Regions from separate parts of the Homo sapiens genome. Here region 2 is linked to region 1. Evidence: fine-mapped expression QTL. A gene starts in region 1. The other region holds a variant in brackets. All regions are shown on one strand. Distances are from middle to middle.

What was found. PIP is the estimated chance that this variant, and not a neighbour inherited with it, causes the effect.
Region 2: its variant is the best candidate, but not a certain one, in a credible set for the expression of CHCHD10 in monocytes (BLUEPRINT, PIP 0.90).

What each region holds. Positions count from the first base shown.
Region 1 is chr22:23,765,693-23,770,068 of GRCh38, reverse strand. CHCHD10 (coiled-coil-helix-coiled-coil-helix domain containing 10) reads left to right here and starts at 2,097. Exons shown (of 4, transcript NM_213720.3): 1 at 2,097-2,235; 2 at 2,476-2,695; 3 at 3,794-3,941; 4 at 4,043-4,235. The coding sequence starts at 2,195. The coding sequence ends at 4,062. It overlaps LOC107985577 (a long non-coding RNA gene), which reads right to left and starts at 1,843. Exons shown (of 3, transcript XR_007068022.1): 1 at 1,276-1,843. It overlaps C22orf15 (chromosome 22 open reading frame 15), which reads right to left. Exons shown (of 6, transcript NM_182520.3): 6 at 4,206-4,348. The coding sequence ends at 4,337. RefSeq lists enhancers at 2,960-3,759, 3,760-4,376.
Region 2 is chr22:23,790,019-23,794,394 of GRCh38, reverse strand. SMARCB1 (SWI/SNF related BAF chromatin remodeling complex subunit B1) reads right to left here. Exons shown (of 9, transcript NM_003073.5): 2 at 2,501-2,639; 3 at 707-836. Among named protein-coding and RNA genes, the nearest start is that of SMARCB1, 5.2 kb to the right of the region's middle. RefSeq lists an enhancer at 1,577-2,077. The variant G/A (reference allele first, on the strand shown) is at 1,793.

The DNA.
Region 1 (4,376 bases):
TGTGGTCCCAGATACTCGGGAGGCTGAGGCAAGAGAATCGCTTGAACCCAGGAGGCAGAAGTTGCAGTGAGTGGAGATCATACCACTGCACTCCAGCCTGAGCGACAGAGCAAGACTCCGTTTCAAAAAAAAAAAAAAAAAAAAGTTGGCATTTCAATGCCTGCTTCAGTGTCATCCTTTCAGCCTCATTTTCATTTGTGTAACCCACTTAAGTGGTCTTGGGTGCCTCCGAGGTGCAAGGCCATGCTTTGTGGAACCTGCAGTCCATCAGCCATGGGAGCTGAAGTAACAACTCTCTGCAGTTTAGGCCCGGGGACCACCATGAGAAGTGTTCAGTTTGTTTGGTGTGGCAAACAGGAACCAGGTGGCATGGACTGCATGAACAAGGGAGTAGCGGCTGGACCAGGCCTGGTGAGTCTGCCAGGAAAGAATGGCCCACCCTTGGTGTGCTCACCTCACTGGGAGGCCACCCTCAAGGTGGGTGGTCACCCCCCTTCAGAGAGGAGAAACTGAAGACAGGGCGGGGAAGGGCCCTGTTCACAGGCTGGCTGAAAGGACTGCAGTGTGAGAGAACACAGGGCTGCACCTGACTTCCATGGAGAGCATGCATGGCTGGGGACAGCTGTGCACACACAGAATTGAGCATGCCAGGCAGGGCCAAACGCCCCAGCCACCACTCCCCTTGCCCCTTGACCTGCTCCTTCCTTATGGAGGGGCCTCCTCTCTTACTTGGTGACCCACACCCCCACTTCTGGGTGCTTTTGCTCTTGGTTGCACCCTGCCGACAATCCCGGTGTCAGGAGTCCTCTGCAGGCACAGCAGTGATGAGGGACAGTCCCTACCTTCCCCCACCTAGGAGTAATAATATGACCACTGCAAAGTCACCCAGAAAAGACCATAAAAACCTCAAGCTCAGCCGGGCGCGATGGCTCATGCTTGTAATCCCAGCACTTTGGGAGGCTGAGGTAGGAGGATCATGAGCTCAGGAGTTGGAGACCAGTTTGGCCAACATGGTGAAACCCCGTCTCTACTAAAAATACAAAAATTAGCCAGGTGTGGTGGCACGAGCCTGTAGTCCCAGCTACTCAGGAGGCTGAGGCAGGAGAATTGCTTGAATCCGGGAGGTGGAGGTTGCAGTGAGCCGAGATCGCCACTGCACTCCAACCTGGGCGACAGAGCAAGGCTCCGTGTCAAAAAAAAAAAAGTAAAAAGTAAAATTAAAACCTCAAGTTCTCGAAGAGCAGGAAAGCATTCTAAATCCGCGCTCCAGCTCACCTGGCCTGGAACGAAGCTGCTAAAATTGCGAGGCCGCAGGCTTCAAACTTGCGCTAGATTTGACCGAGCCGGGCAAATGCTCCTAGGCCTTTGGGATAGACACGCTGCTCGGATGTCGCGTAAAGGCCGTTAGTGTCGGGGGTTGCACTCGCGGGGCCAGGGACTAGGTGGGGGCGGTCGGGCCGGCCCGGGGAATCCGGTGGGGTTCAGGGCCGCGCGGGGGGCCTCATATCCCCCGCGGGCACTGCGTAAGGCTGCCAGCATTGGCAGCGCATTTTGGCCAACAGTCGAAGACGGGTTGGGACGCCCCCTCGTGGGAGTTCTGGGGATGGGTTGCTCCAGGCCTTCCCCAGGGCCGCGCTTCACTTCCCTAGGCCACCGGAGACTCCCAGGCCACGCGGTGGTCAGCAGACCCTGTCTGGAGGGAGGGGACAGACAGCCGAGTCCGGGAGGGGGCAGAGAGCGGAGTCCAGCCTGGAGCCTCGCGTCCCCTTCCCAGCTGGCCCCATCCCGTCGCCTCCCCGTCTCCTCTCCCCTCCAGGGCTCGCAACAACCCCCAACTCCGCTCCCTGCCCTCTGCGGTGGTCCTAACAGAAGGCACTGTCGCCCTCCTTAAGCCCTCGGCGCTTTGCGACACTGGCCCCTGTCCCCAGAACCCGCACAGCCTGCCAGGCGCAGGGAGGGAGCAGGGTCCCATTTCCAGCCGAGACCCGGAGCTGCTGGAAGGGAGATGTCCGGAGGACGGGAGAAGGGGGATAGGGTTGGGGGCAGTGCCGCCTCCCGCTGGGGGCGTGTTCCTGAGGCCCCGCCCGGGGCCCCGCCTTTTTTGCGCCGGCTGTGACAAGCGCTGCGGCATTTGTCCCCGCGACAGCACCGCTGCCGCCGTCTCTAAGGTCGCCCGGGTCCCACCGCCGCCACCATGCCTCGGGGAAGCCGCAGCGCGGCCTCCCGGCCAGCCAGGTGTGAGGGGGACAAGGGCCCTGTGGGGAGGGGGTTAGGGAAGTGTGGGCACTCCCCTAAGGGCGTCCGCAGAGTGACCTTGGCTGCTGCTGCGCCATCTTGGCGGGGGGAGGGGTGGGGGTGCAGCACCCACGTGTGGAGACGTGGGTCGTCCATCTCTCCGGGGGTCGTTTCCAGGAGCTGCAGCCCTCCAGCCTGGGGTCTGGCCAGGATTAACCCTGCTTCCTCCCACCCCCGCAGCCGCCCAGCCGCGCCCTCTGCCCACCCGCCCGCGCACCCACCGCCCTCGGCAGCCGCCCCAGCCCCCGCCCCTTCGGGCCAGCCGGGGCTCATGGCTCAGATGGCGACCACGGCCGCAGGGGTAGCCGTGGGCTCGGCTGTGGGACACGTCATGGGCAGCGCCCTGACCGGAGCCTTCAGCGGGGGGAGCTCGGAGCCCTCCCAGCCTGCTGTCCAGCAGGTGAGCAGCGAGTCCAAGAGAAACTGAGGCAGGATTATCTCGAGGCCACACAGGGAGCTGCCCAAGTGTCCAGTGAGGAGTGTCCGCGTGTATTCACCATTGCTTCAGCCCAGGACTCTGCCCGGGAAGGGTCCTAGTCCACTGGTCTTGAGTTCACTGTCACTTAGAGGCAGGCTTCCCGGCCTCTCCCTTGAGGCCAGGGTCCCTAAGCTCCCAGGGAGAGACACCAACCAGCCCTTTAAAGATGGGAAACCCAGGCCCTGAGGGCTCAGAGACTCGCCCAAGGTCACCTCACCCTAGCAGAGGGGAGGGATGTTGGATTTCCTGAGCCCCTGTTCTCCCCACACCCAGGTCTGGGCACTGTGGCCGCTGGGCGCAAGGGCGAAGGGGAGCCACTTCCCTGATGACCTTTCCCCTGCTAGGAACCCCACCGCCGTAAGCCAAATGTGGCTTTGTGGCTAGGTCAGGGGTCATGAGGATTAGTGTAGCTGAGCCAGGAAGGTGCTAGAACTTGTGGGGGTGGGGCTCATACTCTGAGAGTACAGGCAGAGTACTGGGCTTTCCTAGAGCCTTCTCCTCCCTCTCCTGCACCCGCCCAAAGTGCCCATTAGAAGGCAGCAGAGGCCAGGCGCAGTGGCTCATGCCTGTAATCCCAGCACTTTGGGAGGCCAAGGCGGGTGGATCATGAGTTCAGGAGTTCGATACCAGCCTGGCCAACATAGTGAAACCCCCTCTCTACTAAAAATACAAAAAATTTGTTGGGCATGGTGGCGGGCGCCTGTAGCCCCAGCTACTTGGGAGGCCAAGGCAGGACAACCACTTGAACCCGGGAGGCGGAGGTTGCAGTGAGCCGAGACTGCGCCGCTGCACTCCACTCTAGGTGACAGAGTGAGACTCTGTCTCAAAAAAAAAAAAAAAAAAAGGCAGCAGAAACATGCTGTCTGTAGCCGCCTCTGCTGCTGGATCACTCAGCCTGCCTAGGACCCTTGGGACACCCAGGCTGGGGATGTGGGGAGGGGCAGGTGGCCCCAGGTTTGAAACGCACCTCCAGGTGCCAACTCCAAGCTGATCCTGCAGCCTCTTGCACTGTACCCCCAGGCCCCCACCCCCGCTGCCCCCCAGCCCCTGCAGATGGGGCCCTGCGCCTACGAGATCAGGCAGTTCCTGGACTGTTCCACCACTCAGAGTGACCTGTCCCTGTGTGAGGGCTTCAGCGAGGCCCTGAAGCAGTGCAAGTACTACCATGGTGAGTGAGTGGACCCCGACTCAGGCGGGGAGGGGGAGAGGCCAACCCTCCTCTTGCACCTGCAGGCTGACCACCAGCCTGTGCTGCCCCTCCCTTCCCAGGTCTGAGCTCCCTGCCCTGAAGAGGTCGGTGCAGACTCGGGGGCCAGTCCTGCACCCACCTCTACCCCTCGCCGACAGCCAGACCACAACACCAGATTGTACCCAGATAGCTGGGATTGGAAGTGAGGAGGTTTCTCACCCCACAGATAACCCAAGACACAAATGTGCAATTAAAAGTTTATTTTAGACCACAGCCTGTTGTGTGCCTCTCTCGATGGCCTGTCTTCAGGGAGCTCCCTGGCTGATGAGGTGGGGTCAGGATGGATGTCTCACTACAGTGTGCAATCCATCCCCTTAATCAGGGCCCTGGGTGGGGAGGAGGAGCCCTGTTGCA
Region 2 (4,376 bases), 24 kb before region 1:
ACTTTCCAAGCATTTGTAACTGTTCTCCGGAATCCAGGACTTGGCTTACGTTTCTTAGAAATTCCAATGATATAGAAGAAACTTAGAAACCTGGCTAAGAAAATGTATAAAAACAGAGGGAACTGTTAAAAAGTGTTTCAATACAAAAATCAGGACCGGGCGCGGTGGCTCACGCCTGTAATCCCAGCACTCTGGGATGCCAAGGCGGGCGGATCACCTGAGGTGGGGTTTCGAGACCAGCCTGACCAACATGGAGAGACTCGTCTCTACCAAAAATACAAAATTAGCTGGGCGTGGTGGCGCATGCCTGTAATCCCAGCTATCTGGGAGGCTGAGGCAGGAGAATCACTTGAACCCAGTAGGCAGAAGTTGCAGTGAGCTGAGATCACGCCATTGCACTCCATCCTGGGCAACAAGAGTGAAACTCTGTCTCAAAGAAAAAAAAACTAGCCAGGTATAGTGGCAGGCACCTGTAATCCCAGCTACTTGGGAGGTTGAGGCAGGAGAATCGCTTGAACCTGGGAGGCAGAGGTTGCAGTGAGCCAAGATCGTGCCACTGCACTCCAGCCTGGGCGACAAGAACAAGATTCCATCTCAAAAAAAAAAAAAAAAAGTGTTTCAATTTAACTTCAACCCAACCAGTTCTTGAGTCTCAGAAAAGACCCCACAGGTGTCCCCAGAGATGCCCTGGCCAGGAACGCATTACCTGAGGTAGGTGGGGGGCTCTGTGCTGATGGACACAGCCTTGTACTTCTCATCGTTGCCATCCAGAATCTCTTCCACTTCCGAGGCTTTTAACAGGGTCACACTGGTGGCTAGAGTCGTGTATCCGTGATCTGTAACAGACAAACATCACTGGGTCACTCTGCTGGTGGCGGTGGCACACAGCAGCCAGCCAAGTGGATGCAGCACATCAAGGTCCTCGCATGCGGGAGGTGGGAAAAGCAAGGTGTCAAACTTACTACTGCTGAATGCTGGCCTCTTCCAAAAGGGCAATCTGGACTGAGTGCTTTACTTACAAGTCCTGCTGGGTAGAGCCTCCAATGGGACTGATTTGGACTAATCTGCCCCAGGAGCACTGGCTCGGGGCAGAGGGAAGTGCTCAGGGCAGCACCAGCAACTACAATACAGCACGACCAGCGGGGACACTCGACTCCAGAACATATTCTCTTGGTCCTCACTCAGGGGAAAAGAAAGCTCCCAGAGTAACACCCCAGTGGGAAGAGGTCTGACACCACCACAATCCACAACACGATGCAAGGTGGGGAGATGGAATGGAAGATGAAGAATACTTTTCTTTTAAAACAAGAGCCCAGAGAGTTGGAAAGAGCTGCTTCACACCAAACACGAATTTCTATCCCCGAGCCGGTCCACACGTGCTGCCTGGGAAGCAGGACAGATTCTAGGCAGCTCGACCCCTAGCTCTTCCGGGGAATCTCCGTCAAGAGCTACCTGTCTGTGGGCCCAGTCTGGCTTCTCCTGGAGAAATCAATCGCTTATGGGGAAGGTATCTCCCAAGACTTAGCCCAGGGACTTGCGGAGGGGGAAGCAAAGCTGGGGACTCACTGTGTTAGCGACTGATGCTCTGCTAGGGGAGGAGGGGGAACAAAAAGGAAACTGTTTTAAGCAAGTGAGTGGAAATGTCATAGCAGCAGATCAAAAAGAAGCTCCGGCTCCTGCATTAAAAGAACCACTACTTTCCCGCAGTGGACAAAACCACAGCAGCACCTACAGACACAAACAAACAGGGCAGACTACGAAGCATCGCGCACATGCTCACAGACACACCCAG[G/A]CCCAGGGCAGCTCTCTACAAGGCGCCATTGCCACGTGGGAAGCAGTTTTGCCACCTGCCCAAGGACATGCTGTGTCCACACCCAAATGTCTCCATGGGAGTGTCTCCCACAGAGCCCCCAGAGTGTCTGAAGAGCACCCTTTCACCCTGCACAGAGCTGCCGTGACCCAAAGCCCACTAGTTTCACTAGTGTACCTAGCAAGCCCCAGGCACACGCAGGCCACCAGGAGCAGGGACATGCACATGGGCTCTAGCACACTGGCTGCCAGGATGAAGTGCTATGGGATGGATGTGCTCCAGGAAGCAAGCAGTGAAAGCCCCAGAGGGGAGTGGGAGCTGGGACCACCACCCGCCACTTGGGCTGCATGGAAGATGATTATGGCGACACACCCACGACAGATGGCAGAGCATCGCAGCATTCCTAAAACGTTTTGAGACCAACATGTCTTCACAGCACCTGCTAGTGTCCTGGCCCCGGCCCGCTCACATACCCAATGGCCCTGCTGGAAATAACTGACAGTGGACCACCAATGGCTCCCTGGAGCCACTTCCTTGCCTGGAGTGCTCACAGGGCGGCCCACCCCGGGATGCTCCCTGCCCGACTAAGGCCAAGGCTGCAGTGAAGACACTCTGGAGTGAAAACGTTTTATCTTCATGACATAAGCGAGTGGTTTTGAAACAGGTTTACAAACCCTCGTGAAGACGCACCCTTAGTGTTAGGTTTTGTTTTTTTACCATGTGACGATGCAACTATTTTCTTCCTCTCTTCCACAGTGGCTAGTCGCCTCCAGAGTGAGGGGTATCTCTTGTACAGAGAACCTCGGAACATACGGAGGTAGTTTCCCACCTATGAGTAAAGCAAGAAGGCTCATTATAAGGGTCGCAGCACCACAGGGAAGGGGAGGGTCCTGGCGCAGACTGCATCAAGCAACAGACAAACAGGCCTTGAGGTGGCCCCCAGGCGCCACGCTTTCGGCAGCATTAAAACACATTCTGCTGATATGAAGGGTTCACCAGCAGTGCACATCTGGCCTGCATATGTGCATCCTGACAACAGAACCAAGTTCCGAAAGGCCTGGGCAGATGCCTGAGTGGGAGGCCCCCAGAGCTTAGCAAGAAGTTCGTGGTGATTTTGATTTTGGACTAAGGATCTCTGGCACTTTCCAGAAATGCAAGGCCTCCTTGACCTTCTTTTATCTTAAGGACAAGACTTTGATATCTTTACAATGTAATAAACACCAAAAAGGTCTTTTAATTTTAGACAGATGCCAGATAATTTCCCCCATGGCCTGTGTTGCTTTGTTTAGTAACAAAACCCAAACCAGGGATACCAAAGGAATTTTCCAAAAGGTTTACAAGGCAATCACCAGACTGCTATATAAATCATCACTGACTCAAACAATGGCTTCAGTTTGCTTGTAGCAAATACTGAAAGTGTGACTTCCTTAAGGAAAATAAATCTAGACCTAAAGTTTTTATGAGGGTACCCTATTGTCTCGTTGACTTTTCAAGTATGATCACTTCGGAGTCACATTGCAGGGGATGGCCAATAGACTGGGTGCCAGGTGCTGGCTCCATCTGTAACCTGGGATCACTTCCCATTTTCTGGGTACCCTTTACTCATCTGCCAAATGCTCAGCAACTCTGAACTTCACCCCCATGAAGGACCACTTCTATTATGTTTCCCATTTTATCTACGCAACATAGTATATATTTTGCATTTTTAAATTTATTTTTAATTTTTATTATTATTTTTGAGACAGGGTCTCGCTCTGTCACCCAGGCTCGATTGCAGTGGTGCGATCGATCATAGCTCACTGCAGCCTCGAACTCCTCGGCTCAAGCGATCCTCCTGCCTCAGCCTCCTGAGTAGCTGGGACTATAGTTGCTTGCCACCACAACCGGCTAATTTTTGTATTTTTTGTAGAGACGGAGTTTCACCATGTTGCCCAGGCTGGTCTCAAACTCCTGGGCTCAAGCGATCTGCCCACCTCGGCCTCCCAAAGTGCTGGGATTACGGGTGTGAGCCACATACCCGGCCTAATTAAAAAAAATAAAAATAAAAATCTGTAGAGACAAGAGTCTCACTATGTTGCCCAGGCTGGTCTTAAACTCCTGGGTTCAAGTGATTCTCCTGCCTGGGCCTCCCAAAGTGCTAGGATTATAGGTGTGAGACCCAGGCATAGTATTAAATAAAATGTTTCTCCATTTTCAGCAGTGACTGTAATCAACAACCAGGGCTACTGAACGCTGAGAGAAGAGCAGACACAGCAAGTCACTCGCTTTCCACATAGAGGGCACAGACCCCTCTATGTTATTTGGCTTGTGTGTCAGTATCATCCAGTATCATGGTAAATGTAGAGTTTCCATTAGGTTTTTTAAAAGAAATTGACAATACTCCCCCCTATGACTACCTTGCAGGCCCTGCAGGGCTCTGAGTCTCCTAGATGCCCCCCAAAGCCCCTTCAGAACTTAGGAAACTGGGCTTGCCTTCCTGGCTTTCCTCTGAACCAGCCTTCACCCTCTTGGGACCCAGGTTTCCTGAATATAAAATCAAGGTGCTGGACTTGGGGATCTGTTAGGG